4 linked regions of the Homo sapiens genome follow. The protein of the gene in region 1 interacts with the protein of each later gene in a pairwise test. Each region holds a gene or a part of one and is shown on either strand. Other genes may lie near its edges. The genes, in order: TMEM237, POMGNT1, TMEM72 and SLC35E4.

Evidence for each region.
Region 2: the proteins of TMEM237 (region 1) and POMGNT1 interact in binary tests that used the Homo sapiens proteins (3 or more experiments, as listed by UniProt).
Region 3: the proteins of TMEM237 (region 1) and TMEM72 interact in binary tests that used the Homo sapiens proteins (3 or more experiments, as listed by UniProt).
Region 4: the proteins of TMEM237 (region 1) and SLC35E4 interact in binary tests that used the Homo sapiens proteins (3 or more experiments, as listed by UniProt).

Annotation. Positions count from the first base shown.
Region 1 is NC_000002.12:201,640,495-201,647,808, reverse strand, and holds the start of TMEM237 (transmembrane protein 237), read left to right. Parts: upstream 1-4,305; 5' UTR 4,306-4,408; coding exon 4,409-4,450; intron 4,451-5,138; exon of another isoform or gene 5,139-5,182; coding exon of another isoform or gene 5,183-5,200; intron 5,201-6,884; coding exon 6,885-6,916; intron 6,917-7,314. Other genes in the region: MPP4 (MAGUK p55 subfamily member 4), read left to right, coding at 1-118, 2,405-2,599. UniProt on the Homo sapiens protein: Component of the transition zone in primary cilia. Required for ciliogenesis.
Region 2 is NC_000001.11:46,195,419-46,203,260, reverse strand, and holds the start of POMGNT1 (protein O-linked-mannose beta-1,2-N-acetylglucosaminyltransferase 1), read left to right. Parts: upstream 1-4,826; 5' UTR 4,827-4,925; exon of another isoform or gene 4,926-5,210; intron 5,211-5,389; 5' UTR 5,390-5,439; coding exon 5,440-5,559; intron 5,560-5,711; exon of another isoform or gene 5,712-5,899; coding exon of another isoform or gene 5,900-5,953; intron 5,954-6,176; coding exon 6,177-6,291; intron 6,292-6,411; coding exon 6,412-6,530; intron 6,531-6,771; exon of another isoform or gene 6,772-6,960; coding exon of another isoform or gene 6,961-7,059; intron 7,060-7,183; coding exon 7,184-7,249; intron 7,250-7,336; coding exon 7,337-7,450; intron 7,451-7,842. Other genes in the region: TSPAN1 (tetraspanin-1), read right to left, coding at 6,961-7,059. UniProt on the Homo sapiens protein: Participates in O-mannosyl glycosylation by catalyzing the addition of N-acetylglucosamine to O-linked mannose on glycoproteins.
Region 3 is NC_000010.11:44,914,318-44,921,337, forward strand, and holds part of TMEM72 (transmembrane protein 72), read left to right. Parts: intron 1-7,020.
Region 4 is NC_000022.11:30,631,170-30,638,790, forward strand, and holds the start of SLC35E4 (solute carrier family 35 member E4), read left to right. Parts: upstream 1-4,611; 5' UTR 4,612-5,281; coding exon 5,282-5,900; intron 5,901-7,621. UniProt on the Homo sapiens protein: Putative transporter.

The sequences.
Region 1 (7,314 bases):
AACCCATGAACTGAAGCCCTATGTCATATTTATAAAGCCATCGAATATGAGGTGTATGAAACAATCTCGGAAAAATGCCAAGGTTATTACTGACTACTATGTGGACATGAAGTTCAAGGTAAGAGCAAGTCAAAAACTACTGTATTGCTTTCAGTGGCTTCTGCGTGGGAGAGATCTGGGTTGGGCTGGGCCAAGGATCTCTGATCTCATTGTCCTCCTCCTCCTTTTTGACCCCCTCTCCAAAAGGCCCTCAATAAAATGGTTTACTATGGTTTTATTTAAAAAAAAAATTAAAACTGTATTGTTTCTACAGGATCTGTGTTAGAGAATGTAATTTTTGTTTCTAATGGATAATGCCCTTACGATTTATCCTTTTGGATGGACATCACTTACAGATATAAAGTTTAATAAATGTTATGATGCTACCCTTATTTTTTACTTTCTTATTTTTTTGGGTCTAGCTTAAAAAAAAATCCTTGAGCCGTAGTTTGCAAAGCCAAACAGAAATTGGGCATGTATGAGCCTGGTGTTTGTATTTTAAACAGAATATCTTTTACTTAAAAGCTTACTTTAAAAATGCTCAGTGAGTATATCTCATCTGTAAAATGATGATGGTAATAATAGAGGGGGCAAGCCAAGTGAAATTAATCAGTGATCTCATCCTAGAACAGGTGATTTTTTTTCCGGTTGCGTACATATATTTTACATTAAATATGCTTTAAATATTGTGTCATAACATACATTCAGTAAGGTGTACAGAGTGTACAGTTTAATGAATTTTTATGTGTGTATGCACCCAGATAACCATCACCCACATCAAGATATTACAGCCACTTGTGTGTGTGTGTATATGTGTGGTAAAAATACATAAAACTCACCATATTAACCGTTTTAAGTGTACAGTTCAGTGTTAGTATTTAGTGTTAAGTATATTCACATTGTGTGAAACAGAGCTCTAGAATTTATTTACCTGGCAAAATTGAAACTAAAAATATGAATGATTCACTAAATATTTGTATGTCATGCTTGTACAAGGGCCATGCTAATCTCTGCATTGTTTCAGTTTTAGTCTGTGTGCTACCAAAGCAAGCACAGGTATCTTTAAATTATCCTTTCTCTTATTATTTTTATTTTCATATTTTTTGCAATGACTATGGAGGTCTGATTTTCCAGTTTGCCTTGTGAACAGTGGAGTCCATGAATGTATTTGCTGAGTCTTATGGGCATTTAAAATTGTTCTCATTTTTATGGCAGTCTAAACAAATTAACAAAATTGTTTCTGGATCATATGTATGGTCACTTTGTAAAGCCACAAGATTTTGGTGCCTGCATTTGTGTTTCAGATTGTATTGGTGACAAGTTGTACTATTTTCATGAACTAATAAGAAAATAACAGCAATGAATTTAATGCATTAGTGCCAAGTGAATGCCAAATTACCTTCATTAAATGAACATTTCACAATAGTAGAAACATAATATAACTGGCTTATACCATCCTCATGTTGAAAGTGGCCATTTTGTATCTTTAATGTTATCCCTATCAGATTAATGTTCACTTGAAATTTATGTTTAAATTTTATTTAAACTGGTACATTTTCTTTGGTTTTATGTTGTATATGGTTAAAAAGTTTCAAGTGTTTAGGTAAGAGTAAGATAAGTTCACACGGGAAGTTGAGGGGAGTAATCTGTCTGCAAACTATGACTAAATTTTGCAAAACATGACGAGACATTAAGACTAAAGATTAAAACATAAGTTTTGTAGTTTAGAAGACATTTATTGGACCTCATTTTTTAAAATAAAAACTTCAGTCTTTTATTATTTAAAAAAACTTCCAAATTAAAATTTCTTTATCTCAGTAATACATTTCTAAGAAATAAAGGATGACATACTGTGGATAGTGATATACTTTTCCCAGCTTTGCTTATGCTTCACATTAATTTAGAAGGATATGTTTATACCTGTTATAATAATTATATTTTCTCTACAAAAATTAGCTGGGCATGATGGCATGTGCCTATAGTCCCAGCTACTTGGGAGGCCTAGGTGGGAGGATCACTTGAGCCTGGGAGGCAGAGGCTGCAGTGAGCTGAGATGATCCTACTGCATGCCAGCCTGGGACAGAGTGGGACCCTGTCTAAAAAAAAAAAAAATTATTTTATCTATACTTAGCCACATTATTTCAATAACAGAGGGCAAAAAAATTACTATTTTCTAGTTTGCTGGTTTTGTAGAATTTTGAAAAAATATTTTTGAAACTTTATTGAAAATCATCTGTGCAAAATTTTCGGACCTTACTGTTTTTATACATAGTTTCACAACTGAATGTGACAGCATAACAAACTGTATTTTTTCCATTTGTCCAATTAAGTCTGTACTATCCATATTTTTCTATTTCTCCTAAAGGATGAAGACCTACAAGAGATGGAAAATTTAGCCCAAAGAATGGAAACTCAGTTTGGCCAATTTTTTGATCATGTGATTGTGAATGACAGCTTGCACGATGCATGTGCCCAGTTGTTGTCTGCCATACAGAAGGCTCAGGAGGAGCCTCAGTGGGTACCAGCAACATGGATTTCCTCAGATACTGAGTCTCAATGAGACTTCTTGTTTAATGCTGGAGTTTTAACACTGTACCCTTGATACAGCGATCCATAGTTGCAATCTAAAACAACAGTATTTGACCCATTTTAATGTGTACAACTTTAAAAGTGCAGCAATTTATTAATTAATCTTATTTGAAAAAAATTTTTATTGTATGGTTATGTGGTTACCTATTTTAACTTAATTTTTTTTCCTTTACCTCATATGCAGCTGTGGTAGAAATATGAATAATGTTAAGTCACTGAGTATGAGAACCTTTCGCAGATTTCACATGATCTTTTTAAGATTTAAATAAAGAGCTTTCCTAAATAAAATAAGCAATAGTTAACTTTAGAAACTGTACTCTATGAAACGTGTTTTATGAAAACATCTTTTACAAAAAGTGCTTACTTGACTAACTCAGCAAGAAAGGTTTAATGTACACATTTCACATCTAAAATCAAAACCTACAAGAAACTGCACTGCCTTCACTATTTACAAATCGGCCTACAAGGAAAAAATTATTCTCATGAGAGGTGTGACAAACACTAATTTTCCTTAACAGCCAATATCTACATGCAGGCCTAAATTAGAAAAAGGCAATGGATTAATCCCAGAGACCTATATATAGAAAATCACAAGAGTGAAACCGTGTCTCAGAGTTAAAGAAACCAGGGACTAACAGAAATTCTTGAGCATGCAGGACGGCAGATAAAAAACAACTTGCTAAATAAAACGCCTAAACTTCTTCCATTGTGAGATTAAAAAACAAAACAAAACAAAACAAAGCAAACTGGCTGAAAGTGGTTAGTACTAACACGGATGGCTACCTGGAGTCTGTACAAAATGAGCTTGCTGGCGTCACAGCTTGAATCTTTCCCCATGTTTCACACTGACTCCCTCCAAAATTTGCACATGCGACCCATGAAGGGACATGAAGAGGTAACTGCGAACGCCAGAGGATTTTCCAGATGGCTTCTTTCCTTCCACCAATCACCTACTAATCCCAGAATCCACCCCCTAAACGTTTTCTAATAAAAATACTGTCTTAAAGCCAACACAGGGAGACAGATTAGAGCTATACTCCTGTCTCCTTGTTAGCTGACTCACAATGAAAACTTTTCTCAAAAAATCAGCGCCATAATATTGGCTTCTGTGCGTATAGGGCAACAAGCCCCGTTTGTTTGGTAACAAGATTAGGATGCCATTACAAAGTGCTGTTTCTCTTTCTTTCCCCAGATTTGAGATTTCCAGGCGCTTTCCCTGTCCCTGTATCTGTTCATCTTCTGCATCATTCTCTTCTCCATATCCACACCATTCTTCCATCTTTCCCATTTCTTTCTTAACTGTAAAACAGAATGCATGATTCAAAATATTTGTAGTTCTCTGTTACTTAAAGTGAAAGTTATCTTTAAAAAAAAACAAACCCAACCAAACCAAACGATGCAAATCAGGTAGTTTGTAGTGATATTTATGTGAGGTTGGATTTGATTTTAAGGTTGAGAAAAAGTTTTTCCAAATTTGATTTACACAGTTGTGGGATGAAGGGTAAGCAATCGGAGAAAATGTGAGAATTGCCTATATTAATACACATCCACACACCCAGGCCTGCACAGACTCGTTGGTCCTGGAGAGTAAACGCATTCCTCCCAAACCCAGCAGCGCCTGGCAGGACAGAGGCGGGCGGGGACCTGGCTCAGGGGGCGGCTGCCTCGCCAGGCGCCACGAAGCCCCGGCGTCCCACAGGTCCCGGAGGCCGCTGCGTCGCGGGGAGCTGGGCTCGGGCCGCCGGCGGTTGCGCCGGGGCAGCCCCGCGGGGAGAGCACCATGAGGACTGACTCGGGGGCTCGGCTGGAGGAGGGCCACCTGGTGAGCGGCGAGGGGCGCGTCGGCCTCGAGAGGTGGCGGGTAAACAGCTACACTTGGCAGTGGGGGTGGGTGTGTGTGGGGGGGCGCCAACGAGCTGGGAATCACTAAGGGAGGGCCTTGCTCGTGGGGTGCGCGCATCCGCCCCTCCAGTGTTCACAGGAATGGGACGGAGACGCAGGCGAGGCCGGGACCGAACTCCCGGAGTGGGAGAGAGAGGCCTGGCATGAAGTTTGCGGGGACCTGAGCCCGCGTTGCCACGACGACGCCTCACTCATCTGAGGCCCGGGGCCCGGCGGGTGCCGGGGCTTCCAGCCAGGCCTCTCCTAGACTCCTCCGAGGAGAGGTCTGTAGCTGCCCAGAAGAGATCTGTTCGCCTGCGGAGTCCTTTAATTAAGGTCTTCCGTCACGCCCCGCTTCCCGCAAACAAATCACCGCCACCACTTAGGAAACCACGGGAAAGCTGTGATTGCAGCGCCACGGTCGCCAGATTTCTGCTCCTGGGCACATTACCCCCAACTCCGAGGCCCCCTTTTTGGCAGGGCTAGTCTGGACTGGCCAATCCAGGTCCCTGCACGCCTCTCACCGCAACATCCCCGCAGGGCGCTGCGCGCGGGGTACTAGCCAGGCGGCGCGGCCCGATGACGCATTGCGCCTGCGCGCGCGACCGAGCCGGGAGGGGTGGGGCGCCAGGTGCTTGGGGGCCGGCGGCCGCCGAGGCCGGCTAAACGCAGAATGGGGAAGAATCCTGTGGTAAGCGAGCCTTAGCTACTTTTAATTGTTAGGATTTTTGTCTTCAGTTGAGCCGTCCTACTTTTGAGGATTAGAGGTTGGGTCTCTGGGTGGGTGGAACGTCATTTTTGCGGGACTTTTGAAATCAGTTACGTGAACAGAGCCCTGGGATCGATCGCGCGCGCTTCGTAGCATCTTTAGAACAATAGCGCGTTCCTGTGACTGTCATTCTTCTCCAATTGTAATTTTGACTACTGGATGGTATTACGGCAGCTTGCCTCGTCCTAATCTTGTAGTACTTGCATTAATCTACTGTTCGAACGAATGGATTGCTAAATGGGACAAACTACAAGAGTGTCTAAAATTTAACCCTTTTGAATAAATGTCTTATGCAAGCAGCATGAGATACTTGGAACATTAAATTGGCTTCTAGGCATTTCTGTTACTATATGATTCTAAAATACTTCTCAACTGTAATGCTGTCTGAACTACAAACACTTTTCTTATTCATGTAAATGAGGGTTTAGAAGGGTTCCCCCCACCTTTCTTTCTGCCCTAAAACGCATTCTTCCCAGTGTATGCAACTGGCCTTTTTAAAAATTGTGTTAGTATGTGGTTTAAAACCTCCATTTGTTTCCCATTGAATTAAAACAAAATCCAAACTTCCCTTGGTCTGCAAGGCCCTAACTAATCTGGCTCCTGCCTACCTCTCCTTGGTAATTGTGCGGCAGCCTTGCTGTCCTTTTACCTGAAACATTCCAAGCCCAATTTAACCTAAAAATATTTGCATTTGTTCCGGTTGCTGCTTTCTCATTCAGGTCTCAGCTCAAACTCAGAGAAACTTTCCCTAACAAAAGTAGCACTCAGTCTCCTTCATTCATTACGTTTTGTGTGTGTGTATCTTGTGTATATATATATATATGCACACACGATATGTATACAAGATATGTCTTAAATATAGCATATAAATATATTTTATCGTACATGCTGCATATAATATATAGTATATATTATCATATATATATTTTTAACATTGTTTCTAATACTCAACCACTAGAATGTAAGTTTCATAAGAGCAGAGTTCTCTCCATTGTGTTCATTAGTGTATTCCTAATGCTTAGAAAAGGGCCTGGCCTAGAGATGGAAAGGAATGTAGGAAGGAAGGAATTTTATATGAAATTTAGGATGGGAGAACAAATTTTAAATTGCCCATGTTTCTCATCAGTACCTCCCAGGTTTCACTGATGAACAAGATTATCAAGAGATTTGAAGATCCTAGTCTGATCCATTATATTTTTCTGTCATGTCTGAACAACAGACTTTTGAAAGAATTGCTTTGGCCGGGCGTAGTGGCTCACTCCTATAATCCCACCACTTTCAGAGGCCAAGGTGGGCGGATTTCCTGAGGTCAGGAGTTCAAGACCAGCCTGGCCAACATGGTGAAACCCCGTCTCTACTAAAAATACAAAAATTAGCCGGGCATGGTGGTGGGTGCCTGTAATCCCAGCTACTTGGGAGGCTGAGGCAGGGGAATTGCTTGAACCCAGGAGATGGAAGCTGCAGTGAGCCAAGATCGTGCCGTTGCACTCCAGCCTGGGCCACACAGCAATACACCATCTCAAAAAAAAAAAAATAGCGTGATGGTATTTGAAGTAAAGATGCTCTAGGCTTTTACTTACAAGCAAATTTATTTTTTCCGCCACAGCGTCCTCCACGAGCTCTTCCACCTGTGCCAAGGTAAAAATAATTTACAGTAATTTCATTATTGAGCTTTAAAAATGGAAAATGAAGACAGTGGAAAAATTGACTAGTATCATTGCAAAATTACAATGATTCAGGAAACTCTTCTGAAAAATTTAGGGATTTTCTGAAATTTTAAAGGTGAAAAATCCTTGAATTTTAAGAATAACAGTTATAATGGAATGTTATATTTAAAAGCCTGAATATCAACATGGTAGGATAATGGATCCATTCCCTTTCTAACTGTTTTGGTGTCTTTTTTTTTTTAAATCAGAATTCTGGTCTTTTGTGAGAATAGTTTCCTCAGAGTTTAAGCTGATTTTAATCAGTCACAAGTAAGAGTTCTTAATCTGCTTAATCCATTTTATTAATAGACAGTAGGGAATATGTATATG
Region 2 (7,842 bases), on another chromosome or scaffold:
TCTGTGGATGTATTCGAGTGCTGCGCACACAACCTCTGGCCCTGGATTGCGTGGGGCTGGGCGATTCTGGAGTTGGACCTGAAAGAGCACTCGGAGACCTCAGCGCCTTCGCCCCACCCTGGCACTGAATCCAGCCAGGCACACAGCAGGCGCCCAATACATGTTTGCAGAATGAAGTCTAAGCAGCTTCAGTCAGAGATGTGGGAGTTTAAGGAACAGCGGTAACAGAGAGCTGCAGAGGGCTTGGAAGTCTTCCTGGAGCAGAGGAATTGGGTATAAAACGATGACTGGATTTTAGCTAGACACACACACACACACACACACACACACACACACACACCACCCCCCCCCCCCAGGGGCTAGAATTCAGGCTAACGGAGTAGAAAAGGGCAACCAGTACTGAAGCTGAAGAGGTCCACGTTGGGCTTACAAGCAAGATGCTCCTTAAGCTTGACTGTGCGTATGAATTATCTGCGGATCTTGTTAAAATGTAGGTTCTGATTTTGTAAATCTGGGGTGGGGCTTGAGATCCTGCATTTTTTTTTTTTTTTTTTTTTTTTTTTTGAGACAGAGTCTCGCTCTGTCGCCCAGGATGTAGCGTGGTGGCGCGATCTTGGCTCACTACAAACCTCTGCCTCCCTGGGTTCAAGCAATTCTCCTGCCTCTGCCTCCTGAGTAGCTGGGATTACAGGCATGCGCCACCATGCCCAGCTAATATTTTTGTATTTTTAGTAGAGACAGGGTTTCACCATGTTGGCCAGGCTGGTCTTGAACTCCTGACTTCAAGTGATCCGCCTGCCTTGGCCTCCCAAAGTGCTGGGATTACAGGTGTGAGCCACTGCGCCCAGCCAAGATCCTGCATTTCTAATAAGCTCCCAGGTGATGGCCATGCTGCTGGTCCACACTTCAAGTAATAAGGGACCACACTTTGAGTAACAAGGTTACAGAAAATGGTTCTGAGATGTTTGGGTTTTATTTAACAGGTAATGAACAGCCATGAAAACTCTGGTTTGTTTAGGCTTTTAATTCAAGTAATTCCAGCCCATGGTTGCAGAAGGATTTACAATGAGAAGATAGTTACCCCTACCCTACCCTTTCACACCTCTAGGCCCACTCCCAATTGGCAAAAAATAACTTTTAGTTTTTTTTTTTCTTTTGGTGTTCATACCCATAACGTTATTGTTTAGAGTTAACTAAAAGTGGTTGCCAATTGGGAGTGGGCCTAGAGGTGTGAAAGGGTAGGGTAGGAGTAACTATCCTCTTATTGTAAATCCTACCACTATTTTTTCTTTTTTAGAGACAGGGTCTTCCTACATTGCCCAGGCTGGACTCAAACTCCTGGGCTCAAGCAATCCTCCTGCCTCCCAAGCAGCTGTGACTACAGGAGTATGCCACCATGCCCAGCCACACTACTTCTCAATTTTAAACATTCATCTGCTGTTTATTGTCCTATTCAGATAAATATGGATATATGGGTTTAACTCACACTCTGTAGTTCCTTTCCCCCATTGGCAATATATATTTCTTTTCTTTTCTTTCTTTTTTCTTTTTTTTTTTTTTTTTGAGATGGAGTCTCACTCTGTCGCCCAGGCTGGAGTGCAGTGGCACGATCTTGACTCACTGCAACCTGCCCTCCTGGGTTCAAGCGATTCTCCTGCCTCAGCCTCCTGAGTAGCTGGGATTACAGGCACGTGCCACCATGCCCGACTAATTTTTGTATTTTTAGTAGAGACGGGGGTTTCACCATGTTGGTCAGGCTGGTCTCGAACTCTTGACCTCGTGATCTGCCTGCCTCAGCCTCCCAAAGTGCTGGGATTACAGGTGTGAGCCACTGCGCCCGGCCTGGCACTACATATTTCTATCACTCTTTTTAGTTCATCTAAGGTTACCTTTGTAATTAACTTTTTTTAAAATTTAGATAGAGTCTCGCTATGTTGCCCAGGCTGGTCTCGAACTCCTGGCCTCAAGCAATCCTCCCACCTTAGCCTCCCAAAGTGCTGGGATTACAGGCATGAGCCACCATGCCTGGCCTACCTTTATAATTTTAAGTAACATCATTTTCCTTGGTACTTTTTGATCCATGGAAGGGTTTTAAGTTAGAGATAGACAAAACATTTGTCTTTTTTTTTTGAGACAGAGTCCGGCTCTGTTGCCCAGGCTGGAGTGCAGTGGCACCATCTTGGCTCATTGCAACTTCTGCCTCCCAGGTTCAAGCCATTCTCCTGCCTCAGCCTCCTGAGTAACTGGAATTACAGGCACCTGCCACAACACCCAGCTAATTCTTGTATTTTTAGTAGAGACGGGGTTTCACCATGTTGGCCAGGCGGATCCATCCGCCTCAGGTGATCCACCCGCCTTGGCCTCCCAAAGTGCCGGGATTACAGGCATGAGCCACCGAACCCGGCAACATTTGCCTTAAAGAAAATCACTCTGGATTTTGCAAGGAGAAAAGGATAGGAGGAGTAAAAATCTAGAGTCAAGGAGACTGGCTGGAAAGCAAGAAACTGAAATGGCCTGCACTGGGGCTGATTGTGAGGTCAAAGAAGAATTAGACTAGAATGGAAGGCTCTTTAGGAGGTAAGACTGACAGGACTAGGTGACTGGTTACATTCATTTATAGTGGCATTCAATAAAAATTTGTTAAAAAATACAAATGAATGATTTCAACAAATGTTACGGAGAGCTTACTATGTGCCAGCCTTTGTGTGTGGTGTAGAGAATACAATGGTGAGCAAGACATACCTGGACTGGTCACTGGAGACAGACAAGGAGTCAAGGGTGACTCCCAGCTGTTTGGCCTGGTGCAGTTCACTGAGGAGGGGAACCCACAGGAAATCTAGGAGTGAAAGGAAATGATTCCAGAAGTTGTGCTGTTGCGTTAGAGGGGCCTGTGAAGATGTCCTGCTGGACATCAGGCAGCCTGGAGCTCAGGAAAGAGGTTAGAACTGCCAATGTCAGTTTGGGCATCTAGATTGGTAACAGAGGTCATGAGAGAATGAGATCATCCATGAAGAGTCAGTTTGAGGAGAAAAGAGGGTCAGGAAGGAACCCTGAGGGACATCTTTTAATTATTTATTTTTATTTTTTTATTTTTTGAGACGGAGTCTTGCTCTGTCACTCAGGCTGGAGTGCAGTGGTGCAATCTCAACTGCAACTTCTGTCTCCCAGGTTCAAGCGATTCTCCTGCTTCAGCCTCCTGAGTAGCTACGATTATAGGCGCCTGTCACCACGCCCAGCTAACTTTTGTATTTTTAGTAGAGACGGGGTTTCACCGCGTTGGGCAGGCTGGTCTCAAACTCCTGACCTCAACTGACCACCCCACCTCGGCCTCCCAACCTGCTGGGATTACGTGAGTCATGGTGCCCAGCCGGGACATCTTTTCAAATGTAATAAAATGTGTTGGGTTTTCTTCCATTCTTATACATACTTACTAGGAAAAATCATGTATTTCTTTAACTCCTAAGACAAGTACTGTTAACATTTCATTTTGGGGGATATTACCCCACCATTCAGGAAGCAGATGGAATACAGAAAGCTCAAAAAAATCTAACTGGTCTTCTGGCTTCCTCTGTCTGCTTCCAACCCATTCTCCACAAAAAAAGTAAAGGTTCTCTTAAAACAGAAATTGGATTATATTGCTCCCCTGCCTAAAACTGTTCTATGGCTATCCACTTCAAACAAGCATCAACATCACCTAGAAACTTCTCAGGAATGCAAAATCCCACCCTGCCCCAGACCACTGAATCTAAAACTCTAGGGATGGGGCCCAGCACCTCTGTTTTAAGAAGTCATCCAGGTGATTCTGACGCAAGCTAAAGTTTGAGAACCATTGTGTTAAGCTAACTGCTTTCTATGTATGATGTTATTTAAACCTGGCAATTCTTATGTATTGTTGCCAGCAGAGTGCAGTGGTTAAGAGCAGAATCTGGAGCTAGGCTGAGTTTCAATTCCACCTCTCCTAGCTTTGTGATATTAGGTCTTATTTCTTTATCTGCGACAGGGATAGTAATAGCGCCTATAGCCAGCACGGTGGCTCACTGCCCATAATCCCAGCACTTTGGGAGGCCAAGGCGGGCGGATCACTTGAGGTCAGAAGTTCAAGACCAGCCTGGCCAACATGGTGAAACCCCGTCTCTACTAAAAATATAAAAATTAGCTGGGTGTGGTGGCGCACGACCGTAGTCCCAGCTACTCAGGAGGCTGAGGCAGGAGAATCGCTTGAACCCAGAAGGCGGAGGTTGCAGCGAGCCGAGATGGTGCCACTGCACTCCAGCCTGGGCGACAGAGCGAGACTCCGTCTCAATTAAAAAAAAAACAATAATAATGATAATAGCGCCTACCTCATGGGGTTGTTGTGGAATTAAACATCATCAGTAAGGTGCTTAGAACAGTGACAGAACCTGGATTTTAATCTCCCTTGGCCTCCAATAGCTGTGCATGCCCCAGGACTAGGTAACGGCCTTGCCCAGGACGGGTATGGGGCGGGTGGTGTGTGCCCTGTGTCCAAGGGTTGCAGCCCCTCTGACCCTGGCGTGCCCTGTGATCTGGTCCAAGGTGCTAGGCCTCTGACTGGAGTCGGGCTTGCCATCGGCGGTGCTGGGGAGCGGGCTGCTCTCGTGCAGGCAGCCCCACCAGCCAGCCGGGCTGCGAAGCTGCCTAGCACGGTCTGAGCATTCGCCTTACTCGCTGGCTGCTTACACCCCGACGCCGCTGCCGCCACCGCCGCCGCCGCCGCCGCCGCCCTAAGCACCGCCCGTCGCCCTCTCACCCCGCGGCAGCGGCGGCGGCGGCGGCGGCGGAAGCGGGGGGGCGGGCCAGGCCGGGGCGGGGCCGCAAGCGGCATGGAGGAGGCGGAGGCCGCGGCGAGCCGGGCCGAGCAGTGAGGGCCCTAGCGGGGCCCGAGCGGGGCCCGGGGCCCCTAAGCCGTGAGTGCCTCCGCGTGGGTGTCCGGAACGGGTAGCGCTGCCGGTGCAGGTCTCCTGAGCCCTCGGGCGGCTCCGGGCCCTGGGAGGAGGAGAGAAGCTGGGGCAGATAGGATGGGACGAGGGTTGAAGACTGGGGCAGGAGAGGTCGCTCTTTGCTCACCACAGGCTTGGGAAGGCCTGGAACTTGGTCCTTGTAGGGGCTAACGAACTTTGAGCCGATTATTTGGCCTCCACCCTTGGACAGCCTTGATTCAGAGAGTTACTCCAGTCTCAGGGAATTTCCAGGTGATCCAACCCCACTGAAGGGTTTCCTGCCAGCCCAGAGAAGTTGAGCCACTTTCCCCATGTCACACAGTATGGGTGCTTGCAGGGAAGAGTTGCTGGGAGGTCCTCCCTCATCTCCCCAGAAGGCATCAGACTTTGGGAGGAGCATCTTACCCCATGTGGCCCTCTGGTCCCTTCAGATTCCTGAAGTCATGGGCTGGCCAGGACATTGGTGACCCGCCAATCCGGTATGGACGACTGGAAGCCCAGCCCCCTCATCAAGCCCTTTGGGGCTCGGAAGAAGCGGAGCTGGTACCTTACCTGGAAGTATAAACTGACAAACCAGCGGGCCCTGCGGAGATTCTGTCAGGTATAGAGATGTCCCAAACCCTCCCCACCGAGCGCTCCCTCCCAGCTTCCTCCCCACCTAAATCAGGCACTGGGACCCCTGTTGGCCAGCCCCAGTGGGAAAGGGGCAGCAGGTTCCTAGAGGGGAGACCTCTATGTGTCATGTCCCTATAGGTAATGATTTGAACCCAAAGTTCTGGAATCGGAACCCAAGTACAACTTCTAAGCTTCTGACGGAAGCCTGAAGTCTGATCAGGCTGGCTTTGCAGAGAGGCACACCCCTGTGAGGCAGTTAGGGCCAGGACCCAGGTCTGATCCCCCGCTTGGGTCCCTGGGCCTGGCTCCATCTCTAGAAACCAACAATGGAGGGGACCAAGGAAATCAAGGTCTCAAATAGAAGAATACAGGAGCACTGGGTAGGGAGGGCCCTAATGGAGGGGGAAGTGTCAGGGGAGGTTCCCTGGGGAAAGTGGCTGTGAAACTAGGCCCTGGTCAGGGGAGTAGAGCTAGGCAGACAGAGGAAGGGACAGGACCCAGTTTCTCTGGATGTCTTCACTGCAGCCAGGGCCCTCCTTTCAGAAAGACCCTCTAGGATCTGAAGGAGGTGCTCCTCTTAATCATCCCTACCCCTCCCCTCAGACAGGGGCCGTGCTTTTCCTGCTGGTGACTGTCATTGTCAATATCAAGTTGATCCTGGACACTCGGCGAGCCATCAGTGAAGCCAATGAAGACCCAGAGCCAGAGCAAGACTATGGTAGGGCTAGGCTAAGGATGGGGTAGGGGGCCTTGGATCTCACAGCTGGAGTGGCAGGCAGACCCTAAGCGGTGAGACTCTGCTGAGGAGACTATCTCCATGACCTGTTGTACCCCACAGATGAGGCCCTAGGCCGCCTGGAGCCCCCACGGCGCAGAGGCAGTGGTCCCCGGCGGGTCCTGGACGTAGAGGTGTATTCAAGTCGCAGCAAAGTATATGTGGCAGTGGATGGCACCACGGTCAGTGGGCCAGGGTCTGGTGTACAGTCACTCTATTCTGCTCAGGGCATGGTCCACTGGCAGCAGGGTCTACTGCCTAAGTGGGAACTGCAACTCTGCCAGTTTCTAGCTGTGTGACTTTGGAGTCCTCGATTCCTTATCTATAGACTGGGACTAATGATTTCTACTTGTCAGGATTCAATGAAAAGTTTGTGAAGTGTCTTGTATGTAGTGGGATCTCAAAAGTAATCATTCATAATAGTAGGCAGTCAATTCATTGATTTATTTTATAACCATCCCCTGGTCCTTTCTTTGGCCTCAGCCTTGTGCTGGGCACTGGGGACCTGAAAGTAATCAGACCTGGCCCTACCTTGAGGGGTTCAGTGTGGTGGAGGATTGTGATACTTCCAGGATGAAGCAGAGACAGCAGAGGCTCTAAGAGCCATGAAAGTCATGGAGGGGAGGGTTGTAGAAAGACGTGATCTCTTCTGATGGGAGTGCTATAGAGGCTTTCTGGAAGAGGTGGCCTTCGAGCTGAGTTGGAAAAGAACTGTGTGAACAGAAACATAGGCAGGAGGTGATGTTTCAAGCAGCTGGTGTTTTAAGTACCCCTAAGACAGAGACACCTTGAATGCCAGAGTGAAAAGCTGGACTTTGTCTCTGCCACTGTGTAGGTGCTGGAGGATGAGGCCCGGGAGCAGGGCCGGGGCATCCATGTCATTGTCCTCAACCAGGCCACGGTGAGTTTCTAGGGGTGGGTGACCCAGAGGGCTGGAGCTGGGCTCTTGCTGATGACACCAACTCACCAGAAGTATATCCCCTGCCAGGGCCACGTGATGGCAAAACGTGTGTTTGACACGTACTCACCTCATGAGGATGAGGCCATGGTGCTATTCCTCAACATGGTAGCGCCCGGCCGAGTGCTCATCTGCACTGTCAAGGTCAGTTATTCTGTCCTGACCCTGACCCCTACTCCCTAGCTCCAACCCTGCTTCTAGCCCCGGCTTCTCTGCCCCTCATATAACATAGTGGGAAGATTCTCTGAAGGAAGGTTACTCAGGTTCCAATCTCAGCCTTAACATTTGTATTAATTCAGCAAATAGTTATTGAGCAACAGCTGTATGCCAGGTACTTCTCTGGGTGCTGAAGATACAATGGGAAACAAGACAGAGTCCCCACCCTCATGGAGCTTATATTCCAGCAGTGGGAGGTCAACAGAAACAGCCAAGTAAATGTGGATAATGCTAGTAAATGATAACTTGTATAAAGAAGAAAATAAAGCAGGGGATAATGAATGATAGAGGGGAGGGGACATTTTAGAAAGAGAAGGCCC
Region 3 (7,020 bases), on another chromosome or scaffold:
CCCTCCCTCTGGAGCAGTCATGTGGTTTCCAGGACATAACAGACCACTCCCGCATTGTTTACACCGGGTTCATTTGCTTCACCTCCCTGGCTCAGGATGTGGGGTTGGGGGGCAGGCGCCCATGGGTCCATGTGCATGCATGCGCCCGTGTGATGTCTAAGTGCCTCAGTTGCTGAGACGCGGCATCCATTGCCGCCCATGGAAGCAGACACAGCTGGGAAATGGCACACAGGCTGTGAGCACTCCACATTCCCCTGTGCGGATGCCGGAGCTCCTGCCTGTCCATCCCTCAAAGCAGGTTCTCCCCGTGTCCACTAGAGACAGGGTAAAGATGTCCTGAGTGTGAGACTCAGGCCCCAGAGGAGGCTCAGCCCTGTGACAGGTTCTCAGCACAGACCAAATGGCAGGAAAGGGGTCCTGGGAAATGGATTTAACTGAGCCTGGAGCACAGCGGTCCAGGGCACTCCTCCCCTGTGAGATGAGAAAGGACCTGTCCCACAGCATTGGTCCCAGTTGCAGGCTAGGAAAGCAGGGTTGGCTTCCCTTTGAACTTCAGCCATCCTCTTACCCTTTAACCTCAGGGGAATCTTGAATAACTCCTTTGCCACTCCCCAGCCCCTGCTGAGGTGGCCAGGAAGAGCATGGGAAGAGCCCCCTTTGTGGGACAGAGGAGGCACCTCTCAGGCCGTCCAGGCTGGGCATGGAGGGAAGGGGAGACATGTCCCTGAGCCCCGCCTTGTAGTGAAAGCCCTCCCCTCAGGCTGTGTCCTCACACACAGATGTGCATGGGCTTCCCCATAAGAGGCTTGCTCAGAAAATGTCTCTGGGCACTTGAGCAAGGCCTCCCAATTTCCCTCAGAGCAAAGAGGCTCCAGCTTGAGGCCCCACTGCCCCATCTCCAGGGCTGAATTTCACTCTTCCAGCCTCTGCCCAGAGCAGAGGTTGCTGAGAATGAACATGATTATTTGAGTATTTACTCAAATAATACTCAAAGCCCAAGCTTTGCACTGTGTATTTTAAATGCAGTATCGCATTTCATCCTCCTGTCATTGGGAGCATCATCATGTTCATCCTCATACCCACTGTACAGGAAGGGAAACCGAGGCCTGATGGAGCGAAGCATCTTGCTCAGGGTCTCACACCAGGAAGCAAGAAGACAAAGTTCCACCTGATGATGGTCTGCTCCTGAGACTCCACTCCTAATCGTTATTTCCTCCACCTGAATCAGGATTAAAAAGCATGTCCCATAGTATTTTGATGACCCCAAGATGCAGGATGCAAAACACACAGAGGAGAGCAGGAGAGGCTTGATCAGAACTTCCCCATCCTCTACCCTCATGCTCCTGCCCTTGGTCAGTTCTGATCAGTCAGGTGGGGTCATGGTGAGGACACACGTACAGTGAAGCACATAGTCAAGGATCACCAAACACTTTCTAAATCTCAAGACACCGATATTCATTGCAGCTATCCATTCTCTATCTCAAGATTGCCACACATGCTTTAACCAGCACCACCGTGACCTTCTCTAGCCAAATCTGCTCCTGGAACCCATCTGGGGACAGACAAATCTGCACACATTTCCAGGGGGAACTATCACAGTAGGGCTTGCCTTGATGGGTCCAGAGGTGCAGGGCTGACTGCATGCATTATGGTCATTGTCTCGCTCCAGCCCCACAAATGCCTGAGACGCTAGAGTGCTGGGCTCAGTCCTATTTTACAAATGAGGAAACTGAAGCTCAGAACATTGAGGTAACCTGGCAGAGGTCACATGGCCAGGAGACAGAGGTCCGGTGTTAGAACTCCACTCTGCCCAAACACAGGGCTGTGTTATGGCAGCTCCAAAGCAAAGGGCATGGCAGAGCCAGCAGGGCATGAGGGGATGGAGGCAAAGCCATTCTGAGTGAACTCTGCTTGTCAGGCTGACGTGCTGTTTCTCACAAATTGAGTGCTTGGAATCAACCTGGAATCACTGAGGGGTTTTATTTTGTTCCAGGTTTTGACCCATTAACCTGTTTCTCTATATAATGGACACAGCCACATTTTCAACTGCTCCCATGCTTCCCACACAGTTAGAGCATTGGCTTATTAATGTACATTAGGAGAAAAGAAGTATTTAAAACCCAGCTGTTCTCATTATATTTTAAAGGATAGAGCAAATGCATAGTTTGACCTTAGCCCTGTTCAAAGCCTTCAGGAAAACAAATGCTTCTGAAGCAGCCATCTTGGGCCCTCCATGCTAATTTTACCCCTCTTACATGTATATCCCCATGACCACCTCCTGCTGTTTAAGAAAGTGTCATGCACTCCAACGCCTCGCAAGAGATTTATCACCCAAGTGAGCCCACATTGTATTTTCAGACCTTCCAAGTGAATGTTGACTGTTTTCCTTTTCTGTTACAATTGGCTCCACAAGTAAATGGAATCTGCCTCCCTCTGTTCCCCCCACCTACCACCAACAGGCAATAGGATTTGGTTCAAACATTTCTTTTTTCACAACTTTGTGCCTGTGCCTTGCTTCTAGATTTATAACAAGAAATCTGAAACTTCAATTAGGTTTCATTTACTTGGCAAACTGTTGCTGAGTCCCCAGTGATCTGCTCCTGAGACTCCACTCCTAATCGCTATTTCCTCCACCTGAATCAGGATTAAAAAGCATGTCCCATAGTATTTTGATGACCCCAAGATGCAGGATGCAGTCCAGTCCTGCATCCCCAGTCCTGAGTCCCCAGTCATGCAGCATAGACACATGGATTAGAATGGCAAGACCTTGCCCTGTGGGAGTGTATGGGCTGGACAGAGAAGCAAACTAGTAAGTGCACATCCGAGCACCAAGCACTGCAGCGTAGTGTTTGGGAGGTGGGTCTGTGTCCTGGGACAATCACTGTATCTACCCTCTGGAGTTGTGAGGGCTCAATGAAACAATGGCTAAAGTAGCAAGCTGCCTGGCACATAGATTCTCACTCAGCATGGGCTAATTTTAGAGGAACGTGCAGGGCATGGAACTGTGTAGCATGAGTTATCAGCTCCTTTTGTTGGAAGGAAGAAGAAGGAAGATCCGAGGAAAGGAGCAAAGCAGTATGTGACTCATGAGGCTGGAAGGAGGAAGGGGCTACACTGTAAAGAGCATTATACTGGGAAACATTTCCCATCACATTCTGAGCTTGGGTTGTGAAGATCAGCCCACAGGAACTTGGCTATTTCTACACCACATATAGTAAGCCAACCAGAGGAAAGATGGCAGCCCTGTTTTATTTTTCATGGGATGACAGCTCTTTCAAGATTGTCCTGGGTTCTATTCAGCCTTCTGAAGAGGGCTGTGAACAAAAAGAAATGTTGTCTGACATAAGTGGCTGACACTGTGAAGAAGGGGCTCAGGAAACCCCCAGGAGACCAGGTAAGGGTCAGATGAAGAAGCCTGATGTGTGTGGAATGGACAGAGAACAATGGGAGCATGGACAATGCTTTCTGGAAACCTGCCATGTGGATGAGTGAGCAGATGCATTCTCCCTGAACACTGAGAAGGAATAGGAAGTGAATACCTCGGTTCTCCCTGACATTGAGACCTAAAAGAAATTTCTCCTGTGGGCCTGTATAAGTTTGTTTTCACACTGCTGATAAAGACATGCCCAAGACTGGGCAATTTACAAAAGAAAGAGGTTTAATTGGACTTAGAGTTCCATGTGGCTGAGGAAGCCTCACAATCATGGTAGAAGGCCAGGAGGAGCAAGTCACATCCTACATGGATGGCAGCAGGCAAGGAGAGACAGCTTGTGTGGGGGAATTCCTCTTTTTAAAACCATCAGATCTCTTGAGATTTATTGACTATCACGAGAACAACACGTGAAAAACTTGCCCCCCTGATTCAATTACCTCCTGCTGGTCCCTCCCACAACAGGTGGGAATTCAAAATGAGATCTGGGTGGGAACACAGCCAAACCATACCAGGGTACTTACAAGGGAGATGCTATTCTACGTGGGAGACACTATCCTCAGTAGTGCCAATGAACCATATGGGTCTGCAGAGTCCTTCCTCATCACCAAAGAGTGGGGTATCAGCACAGATGGCCTCACAGGTGAATTCTACCAACACTTAAGGAAGAAATATCTATTCCACACAAACTCTTCCAGAAATTTGAAAGGAGGCAATACTTCTCAACTCATTCTATAAAATTAGTATTTATGTGGATACCAAAACCAAAGATATTACAAGAAAACTATAGACTAATATTCTTCTCAATATAGATGCAAAAATTCTAAGCAAAGTTTTAACAAATACAAATATATTGAAAGAATGATATATCATAATCAAGTGGAGTTCATCTCAGAAATGCAAGGTTGTTTTAATATTTGAAAAATCAATTAATGTAACTTACCATGTGTTATGGACTAAATGTTTGTGTCCCCCCAGCCAAATTCATATGTGGAAATCCTAACACCCAACATGATTGTATTAGGAGGTAGGGCCTTCTCTGAATGGAAATAATGCCCTTATAAAAGAGACCTGAGAGAGCTCCCTAGGCCCTTCTATCATACAATGTGCGGTAACAGTGAGAAGACAGTTTTCTATAAGGAAGGGGTCCCTCAGATACCAAATCTGCCAGCATCTTGATCTTGCATTTCCCAGCCTCCAGCACTGTAGGAAATAAATTTCTGTTGTCTATAAGGTACCCAGTATATGGGATTTGGTTATAGCAGCCGAAATGGACTAAGACATCATATTTAAAAACTAAAAAAGAAAAACCATATTATCATCTAAATAGACACAAAGTTTTAAACGAAATCCAACATTCTTTTATGATTAAAATAAAACTATCATCAGCAAACTAGTAACAGAAGGAAACTCCCTCAACCTTAAGAGGTCATTACAGAAAACATACATCTACTTAAATGTAAAAGACCAGGTGCTTCCTCCTAAGATTAGGAACAAGGCAAGGGTGTCCACTCTACCACGTCCAGTCAGCATTGTACTGGAGGTTCTAGCCAGTGCAAGAAACAGAAACAAAATGCATACAGATTGTCCAGGAAAAAGAAAAATTTTATTCACAGATGACGTTATCATCTGTAGAAAATCTAATAGAATCTACCCCAAAAGCTACTTGAGCTAATGGAGGGAATGGCAACATTGCAGAAGACAAGCTTAATATATAATAATCAACTGTATTTCCATACATTAGCAACAAACAATTAGAAAATGAAATCTTTAAAAATACAAATTATAATAGCATTGAAAATCCGAAATATTTAGGGATAAATCTGACAAAAGATGTAAAACAAACTACACTAGAAACTAGAAAACATTGCTGAGAGATAACAAAGAAAATCTAAATGAATGGAGATGCATCTTGTTGATGGGTCAGAAGGCTCAATATCGTTAAGACATCAGTTCTCCCCCAAATTGCTATACAGTTTCAATAGGAGCTCAATCTGAAGTCTCTTCCAACTGAATGTCCAGAAATATCTGCCATGAAATCCTTCCCTTTTCCCACACTGTCTCTGAACCCTGGCTCATGTATATCAGCTGAACTGATCTCCACACGTAGGTAAACCTCCCCACCATGCTTACTGTTTGCCACAACTTCTGAGCTAAGAAGCCTGTGGCTACTACCTTACTGTCCCAGTGAATTCACAGCAACTGTTTCCAGCAACTCCATAGTCTTGGAAATGGTACAAATCTAGCTTTTCACCTCTACCCTGGCGGTGACCACCTCTCCTGGACCATCCACGCCCATTGTCATCAGCCTGGAGCGTCTTTCCCTGAGGTGTCTTTGGACACCCTGAGTCCAGCAGGAGATGAGAATGAAAAGAAGCAATAAATATACGCGGTGGGTTCGGAGGCTGCCCTCAGCAACAGTGAGTACAAAATTCTCATCCAATGCCCAGGGCATCCAGTGCCAAGGTTAGTGTGGCCTCTGATGACTGTGAAGCGTCCCATGTTACCACCAAGGGCATCACAATAAATGCAAGACATATGTCACAATTCAACCCATGGAGTCAGAACGGATAAGCAACAGTGGATCATGAGGTCAGCCCTATGGCAAAAGCAGCAGCAGCCTGAGGCCAGGGGAATATCCCCTCAGTAGGCAGCCCCGCAGATGGCCCCAGCCTCAGGAACATGCTGGCCTGAGCCCCGTGGGGACCCTAGCAGGGTTATGGAGGGCTAATACAAGAGATGTGGAGATAGATGGGAGTTTGGGTCACTTATATCCCAACTGGGCTTTGAGAAGGGACCTCAAAGTAAATTAGTGAACAACAAGCAACACTGGTGCACAGGGAACAGCTTTTTGGCCACAAAAAAACCCACAAGTGTGTTAATGGGAGCAAAGGATGAGAATAAACCCTCTCCTTCCACTGGAGAATACTGATGGGAACCGCCTGCCTCTTATAATAGCTTTCCTAGCCATCGTCTGCATTTGTGCAGCACTCTCATTTACTTAGACTGAGCAGTGGTCGGCACCATTTTGCATGTTTTTATTTTCCCCATTTTCCAGAATAAGATGCAGACCAAAGAGTTAATCACTTTCCTGAGGATGCAGGACTCAGCTTTTCTGATGCAGGCCCCATATTCTTTCTGCTCTGGTGCAGCCCCCTCCTAGCTTTCGTCAACCCATGCTGAGACCAGAGCTCCAGGATGAGAAGGATACTCACACAGTGGCTGCCCTGCCCAGGGCTGTACCACAGGCTCTTGGCCCAGGATCTCTGATCTCTGCTAAGCCTGAACTACAACAAACAGCTCAGGAAAGCAACACAGAAGCAAGCCCTGGACCCTGAGAGAAGAAAGTTCTTGTACCAAGGTTGGATCTGGCCCACACAGGAGGGACAGAGACTGGAGGGAAGGAGCTAACAAGATGAGAGAGGCCAGGCTTGTCCATGAATGGCTCCATCAAGGTGCGATGCAAGGCACCTCCTGGGATCATGCAGGGAGTGAGACAGAGGCGTGGGGTGAGCTGTGCTGGAGTGGGCATAAGGTACCTCTGTTGGGCTGGGGTGAGAGTAGCTGGGGAGCCTGAGGTGGGATAATAG
Region 4 (7,621 bases), on another chromosome or scaffold:
TGTGTCCCTGGGTACTTGAGATTAGGGAGTGGTGATGACACGAGCATGCTGCCTTCAAGCATCTGTTTAACAAAGCACATCTTGCACCGCCCTTAATCCATTTAACCCTGAGTGGACACAGCACATGTTTCAGAGAGCACAGGGTTGGGGGTAAGGTCACAGATCAACAGGATCCCAAGGCAGAAGAATTTTTCTTAGTACAGAACAAAATGAAAAGTCTCCCATGTCTACTTCTTTCTACACAGACACGGCAACCATCCGATTTCTCAATCTTTTCCCTACCTTTCCCCCTCTTCTATTCCACAAAACCGCCATTGTCATCATGGCCCGTTCTCAATGAGCTGCTGGGCACACCTCCCAGACAGGGTGGTGGCCGGGCAGAGGGGCTCCTCACCTCCCAGTAGGGGTGGCCGGGCAGAGGCGCCCCTCACCTCCAGGACGGGGCGGCTGGCCGGGCGGGGGCTGACCCCCACCTCCCTCCCGGACGGGGTGGCTGCCGGCGGAGACGCTCCTCACTTCACAGACGGGGTGGCTGCCGGGCGGAGGGGCTCCTCACTTCTCAGACGGGGCGGCTGCCGGGCGGAGGGGCTCCTCACTTCTCAGACGGGGCGGCCGGGCAGAGACGCTCCTCACCTCCCAGACGGGGTTGCGGCCGGGCAGAGGCGCTCCTCACATCCCAGACGGGGCGGCAGGGCAGAGGCGCTCCCCACATCTCAGACGATGGGCAGCCGGGCAGAGACGCTCCTCACTTCCTAGATGGGATGGCGGCTGGGAAGAGGCGCTCCTCACTTCCTAGATGGGATGGCGGCCGGGCAGAGACGCTCCTCACTTTCCAGACTGGGCAGCCAGGCAGAGGGGCTCCTCACGTCCCAGACGATGGGTGGCCAGGCAGAGACGCTCCTCACTTCCCAGACGGGGTGGCGGCTGAGCAGAGGCTGCACTCCCGGCACTTTGGGAGGCCAAGGCAGGCAGCTGGGAGGTGGAGGTTGTAGCGAGCCGAGATCACGCCACTGCACTCCAGCCTGGGCAACATTGAGCACTGAGTGAACCAGACTCCGTCTGCAATCCCGGCACCTCGGGAGGCCGAGGCTGGCAGATCACTCGCGGTTAGGAGCTGGAGACCAGCCCGGCCAACACAGCAAAACCCCGTCTCCACCAAAAAAATACGAAAACCAGTCAGGCGTGGCGGCGCGTGCCTGCAATCGCGGGCACTCGGCAGGCTGAGGCAGGAGAATCAGGCAGAGAGGTTGCAGTGAGCTGAGATGGCAGCAGTACAGTCCAGCTTCGGCTCGGCATCAGAGGGAGACGGTGGAAAGAGAGGGAGAGGGAGACCGTGGGGAGAGGGAGAGGGAGAGGGCAATAAAATTTATGTATATATAAATTATTATTGTTGCTGAGCAAGGTGGCTCATGCCTGTAATCCCAGCACTTTGGGAGGCCAAGGTGGGTGGATCACCTGAGGTCAGGAGTTCGAGACCAGCCTGGCCAACATGGTGAAACCCCATCTCTAGTAAAAATACAAAAATTAGCCAGGCATGATGGCAGGTACTTGGGAGGCTGAGGCAGGAGAATCACTTGAACCCGGGGTCGGGGGGTGTCAGAGGTTGCAGTGAGCTGAGATTGTGCCACTGCACTCCAGCCTGGGTGACAAGAGCGAAACTCCATCTCAAAAAAAAAATATTACTGTTGTTGGTTTTTTCTCTCTTATTATTTTTTAATTAAATTTAAAAAAGTTTTGGTCGGGTGCGGTGGCTCACCCCTGTAATGCCAGCACTTTGGGAGGCCAAGGCGGGTGGATCACAAGGTCAGGAGATCGAGACCATCCTGGCTGACACGGTGAAACCCTGTCTCTACTAAAAATACAAAAAATTAGCCGGGCGTGGTGGCGTGAACCTGTAGTCCCAGCTACTCAGGAGGCTGAGGCAGGAGGATAGCATGAACCCAGGAGGCGGAGCTTGTAGTGAGCTGAGATCGTGCCACTGCACTCCAGCCTGGGCGACAGAGCGAGACTCTCTCAAAAAAAAAAAAAAATTTTTTTTTGAGGCAGGGTCTTTGTCACCCAGGCTGGAGTGCAGTGGTGCAATCTTAGCTCACTGCAGCCTCCATCTCCTGGGCTCAAGGGATCCTCCCTCCCAATCCCCTGAGTAGCTGGGACTACAGGCAGACACCACCATGCCAAGCTCATGTTTGTTTGTTTGTTTGTTTGTTTTTGAGATGCAGTCTTGCTCTTTCGTCCAGGCTGGAGTGCAGTAGTGCGATTTCTTCCAGGCTGGAGTGCAGTGGTGTGATTTTGGCTCACTGCAAGCTCTGCCTCCCGGGTTCAAGCGATTCCCCTGCCTCAGCCACCTGAGTAGCTGGGACTACAGGCGCCCACCGCCACACCCAGCTAATTTTTGTATTTTTAGTAGAGACGGGGTTTCACCATGTTGGCCAGGCTGTCTCCAACTCCTGACCTTAAGTGATCCGCCAGCCTCGGCCTCCTAAAGTGCTGGGATTACAGGCGTGAACCTCTTCGGCCAGCCTCCCAGCTTATTTTTGTATTTTCTGTAGACACGAGGCTTTGCCCTGTTGCCCAAGCTGGTCTCCAACTCCTGAGCTCAAGTGATCCTCATGCCTCAGCCTCCCAACGTGCTGGGACTACAGGCATGAGCCACTGTACCCAGACTATTGTTTTTTACTAAAGGAGACTTACTAGAAAACTGACAAAATCCAGGCTGGGCGTGGTGGTTTACGCCTGTAATCTCAGCACTTTGGGAGGCCAGGGTGGGTGGATCACCTGAGGTCAAGAGTTTGAGACCAACCTGACCAACATGGTGAAACCCTGTCTCTACTAAAAATACAAAAATTAGCCGGGTTTGGTGGCGCACGCCTGTAATCCCAGCTACTCGGGAGGCTGAGGTAGGAGAACCACCTGAACCTGGGAGGCAGAGGTTGCAGTGAGCTGAGATCGTGCCATTGCACTCCAGCCTGGGCAACAAGAGCGAAACTCGGTCTTGGAAAACAAACAAACAAAAAAACCTGACAAAATATCAAAGATAATTATAACCCTTAGGGGTCCCAGATTTCTCTTCCTCAGGAAATGGCAAGGGGGTGCGGGAGAGGGGCCATCCGCTTTGGCTGGCTTAGTTTCCTTTCCACAACCCTTTCTGGAGAAACACTAAATGCCACCATTTTTTGGTCCTTGGCCTGGAAATTTCCCTATCTGCACCCCCTGCGCTGTAGCTTAGGCTATTCAGCAGAGATCTGCAGGCTCCAGCGGGCGTCGGACTTACAGAGGCAAATGTGACCATGTAAATTCCCAGGCCCACCCGTGACAGAGAGCCTCTGATTCAGCAGGCCTCCTTTGAGGCTGGGGATTTTAAACCCGCGTCCTGTGATTGGGATGGGGATTGAGGGCTATATTCAGCGCCTGGCCACCAGAGGGCGCAGCGGGCTGGGTTCAGCGGTACCCCTTTGAGATCTTGTGTCTCAAGACAGGTTGCTGTCATCAAGGATTTGCTGGTTAGACAACAGGCAAGGGGTGAGCTGGGTCCTCTTGGGCAGGAGCCTAGTAGGAAGACCGACAACAGGAAAGAGGCTCACATCTGATACTGGGCACATGGCTGGGCCTTGGTCCTCGTGCTCCCGGACTTCAGAGCTCAGAGGGGCCAGGGCCTGGCCTAGCCTGGAATCTGGATGGACCTCTTCTGCCCTGGGGCGCGCCGTTTACCCAATCCTGACCTCAGAGAGCGTCTGTCGTTCTGGTGGGAAAACCGAGACCCAGACAGGAACAAGGGCTCAGTGGCAACCGCTCTGCCTCCCAGCCCAGGGCTCTGTCTTGCCGGGGCTGGGGCACAGGGTGGACCCCAGGAAGTTCTGCTATGAGTCAGCTTCGAGTGCTCAGGGGACCGGACAGAGGCTGCTGGCCGGGGAAGGATGCCGGCCGGCGGTACCTACTTCCGCAGCTGTGGGTATCCCTGCCTGGTGATTCAGCTTCCCTCTGAGGGTCCCCAGGGGGCGCCGCCCTGGACTGGGAGGCTGGGGAGGATGCTGGGGCTACGGAGGGGCGATGGAGGTGCCTTAAGGGACCCCGTAATCCAGCTCTGCTGGATGCTGAGGTCCCACGAGATAATTGTGGCCAGAGATCAGGTGGGCGTAAGACTGGTCCTAGGATGGGGGCTGTGGGCCCCTCCTCACTACCCTGCTTCTTGAAGATAGCCTGGGCGGCTGTGCGGGATACCCCAGTGTCTCCAGCAATGCGCGTTCATCTCCATGGAGGGCTCGCCTTGGCGCTGGGTGGGGAGCGACTTGGTCCCCCCTGGCGGCGAAGAGAGGCTGACCACGCCAGCTCGTGGGGGGGTCTACTGGGCAGATGCGCAGGCCCCGGGCGGAGGAGGGCTGATGGGGGAAATGCCAGGCCGATGGGGGAGGGGCTGTGAGCGGGAGGCGTTGGGGCGGGGCAAGACCGCCCTCCCGGTCCGGGGGCGGGGCTTGGCCTGGGGCGGGGCTTGGCTGGGGTGCTCAGCCCAATTTTCCGTGTAGGGAGCGGGCGGCGGCGGGGGAGGCAGAGGCGGAGGCGGAGTCAAGAGCGCACCGCCGCGCCCGCCGTGCCGGGCCTGAGCTGGAGCCGGGCGTGAGTCGCAGCAGGAGCCGCAGCCGGAGTCACAGCCGCAGCCAGAGCCGCAGCCAAAGCCTCAGAGAGCAGGAGTTGGAGCGCAGGCCCTGCTGGATCCGCGCCTAGCTCGCCGCCAGGCACCGGCCGGAGGACGGGCCGTGGTGTCAGCTCACTGCCCGGGCGCTGTGGGAGGCAGCGAGCCCGCGACCCCCCGGGCCGGGCACCGCCAGGCGCGGAGCCCAGATCGCCCCCCTGCCAGGCCTGGTCACGGCCAGAGCACGCAGGAGTTCCCAGGGTCTGGATCTGCGCGCACCCTAATGACCTGGGGACTGAAGAGAAAAAAGGAACGAGGATTTCATCTAAAAGCATAACGTGGGCACTAGGCGAGGAGGAAAGTGGAGACCACCTGGCACGGGGCAGAGGTGCCTGGAGCCCACGCTTGAGCATCGGAGACCCTGGCATCCTAGCAGCCGCGACCTTGGCTCTGCCCTGTCTGAGCTGGAAACACAGCTTAGCTTCTAGACATCGCTGGCACAGGCCTGGCACAAGTAAGCAGTGTCCTCACCTGTCTGAAACGGGACACGGGGTCGGAGGAACCAGGATCTAGCCTGGCCCCAAGCGGAACTCTCTGGTGGCCCAGAGGTCGTCACTGGGGAGCCCGCCTCCTGCCCTAGCCTCACTGGTGCGGATGTGCCGCTGCCCGCCGGAGCACCATGATGGCAGGATGACCTCAGCCGAAGTAGGAGCAGCAGCTGGTGGTGCTCAGGCGGCTGGGCCCCCCGAGTGGCCCCCTGGCAGCCCTCAGGCCCTCCGGCAGCCTGGCCGGGCCCGAGTGGCCATGGCAGCACTGGTGTGGCTGCTGGCGGGAGCCAGCATGTCAAGCCTCAACAAGTGGATCTTCACAGTGCACGGCTTTGGGCGGCCCCTGCTGCTGTCGGCCCTGCACATGCTGGTGGCAGCCCTGGCATGCCACCGGGGGGCACGGCGCCCCATGCCAGGCGGCACTCGCTGCCGAGTCCTACTGCTCAGTCTCACCTTTGGCACGTCCATGGCCTGCGGCAACGTGGGCCTAAGGGCTGTGCCCCTGGACCTGGCACAACTGGTTACTACCACCACACCTCTGTTCACCCTGGCCCTGTCGGCGCTGCTGCTGGGCCGCCGCCACCACCCACTTCAGTTGGCCGCCATGGGTCCGCTCTGCCTGGGGGCCGCCTGCAGCCTGGCTGGAGAGTTCCGGACACCCCCTACCGGCTGTGGCTTCCTGCTCGCAGCCACCTGCCTCCGCGGACTCAAGTCGGTTCAGCAAAGTAAGTGCCTGGGTGGCCAATTGAGAAGGTGGGGGTCCGGGTGGGTGCATGGCCTGGATGGCCCTGTGAGGGGTATGGCTGTTGTCCCATTTTACAAATGAGGAAACTGAGGTTCATGGCTGTGGAGGAAGCAGAACTGAGGCTCAGAGAGGGCCAACAGTTCAGTGAGTTCCAGGCCCCAGACTCAGGCTCTGGAGGCCCAACTCGTGTTTATTTGTTTATTTACTTATTTAGACAGGGTCTGGCTCTGTCACCCAGGCTGCATTGGTGAGATCTCAGCTCAATACAGCCTCCGCATCCTGGGTTCAAGTGATTCTTCTGCCTCAGCCTCCCAAGTAAGTGGGACTACAGGTGCACACCACCACGCTAAGCTAATTTTTGTATTTTTAGTAGAGACAGCATTTTACCATGTTGGCCAGGCTGATCTTGAACTCCTGACCTCCCAAGGTGCTAGGATTTCAAGCGTGAGCCACCCCACCTGGTCAGCTAATTTTTTTTTTTTATAGACACAGAGTCTTGCTATGTTGCCAAGGTAGGTCTTGAACTCCTGTCCTCAGCGATCTTCCCCCCTCAGCTTCCTGAAGTTCTGGAATTACAAACCAGTATTTAGTGATAGCCAGTGATCTGTGTTTGACTAGCCTTTTATCTCACTGTATTGTTCCCATTTGATAGATGAAGAGGCTTGCCCTGGGCCACGTGGCCAGTGAGCAGCAGAGGCAAGATCTAAACCCAGATAGTCAGACTCCATGCTTCCAAGAGATGTGGCCTGAGGCTTTGGACACAAAGGAAAGCCAGAAAGCATGGGCCAGGGAGAGAAAAGGAGGGTCTGGGATGAGCTGGGATTTGGAAGGTCAGGGGTCAGGTCTAAGTCTGGGGAGGGCTGTTGTTTACTGGGAGCTACAGTGTGACAGGCTTGGTGCTGAGTGTTGACCTTGAGTTGTCATGGCAACCACCAACTTTATCCCCATTTTACAGATGATGGGACTAAGACCCAGAGAAGTTCATGATTTGACAGGCTGGGCATGGTATCTCATGCCTGTAATCCCAGCACTTTGGGAGGCTGAGGTGGGAGGACTCTTGAGACCAGGAGTTCGAGACCACCCTGGCCAACATGGTGAAACCCTGTATCTATTAAAAATACAAAAATTGGGGCCGGGCGCGGTGTCTCATGCCTGTAATTCCAGCACTTTGGGAGGCTGAGGCGGGTGGATCATGAGGTCAGAAGTTCAAGAACAGACTAACCAAGGTGGTGAAACCCCATCTCTACTAAAAATACAAAAAAATTAACCGGGCGCCATGGCAGGTGTCTGTAATCCCAGCTACTCGGGAGGCTGAGGCAGGAGAATAGCTTGAACCCGGGTGGCAGAGGTTGCAGTGAGCCAAGATCGCCCCACTGCACTCCAGCCAAGGCGACAGAGTGAGACTCCATCTCAAAAAAAAAAAAAAAAAAAAAAAAATTGGGCCAGGCGCAGTGGCTCACAGCTGTAATCCCAGCACTTTGGGAGGCCGAGGCAAGTGGATCACCTGAGGTCAGGAGTTCGAGACCAGCCTGGCCAACATGGGGAAACCCTGTCTCTACTGAAAATACAAAAATTAGCTGAGCGTGATGGTGGGCGCCTGTAATCCCAGCTACTCAGGAGGCTGAGGTGAGAGAATCGCTTGAACCTGGGAGGCGGAGGTTGCAGTGAGCTGAGATCACGCTATTGCACTCCAGCCTGGGT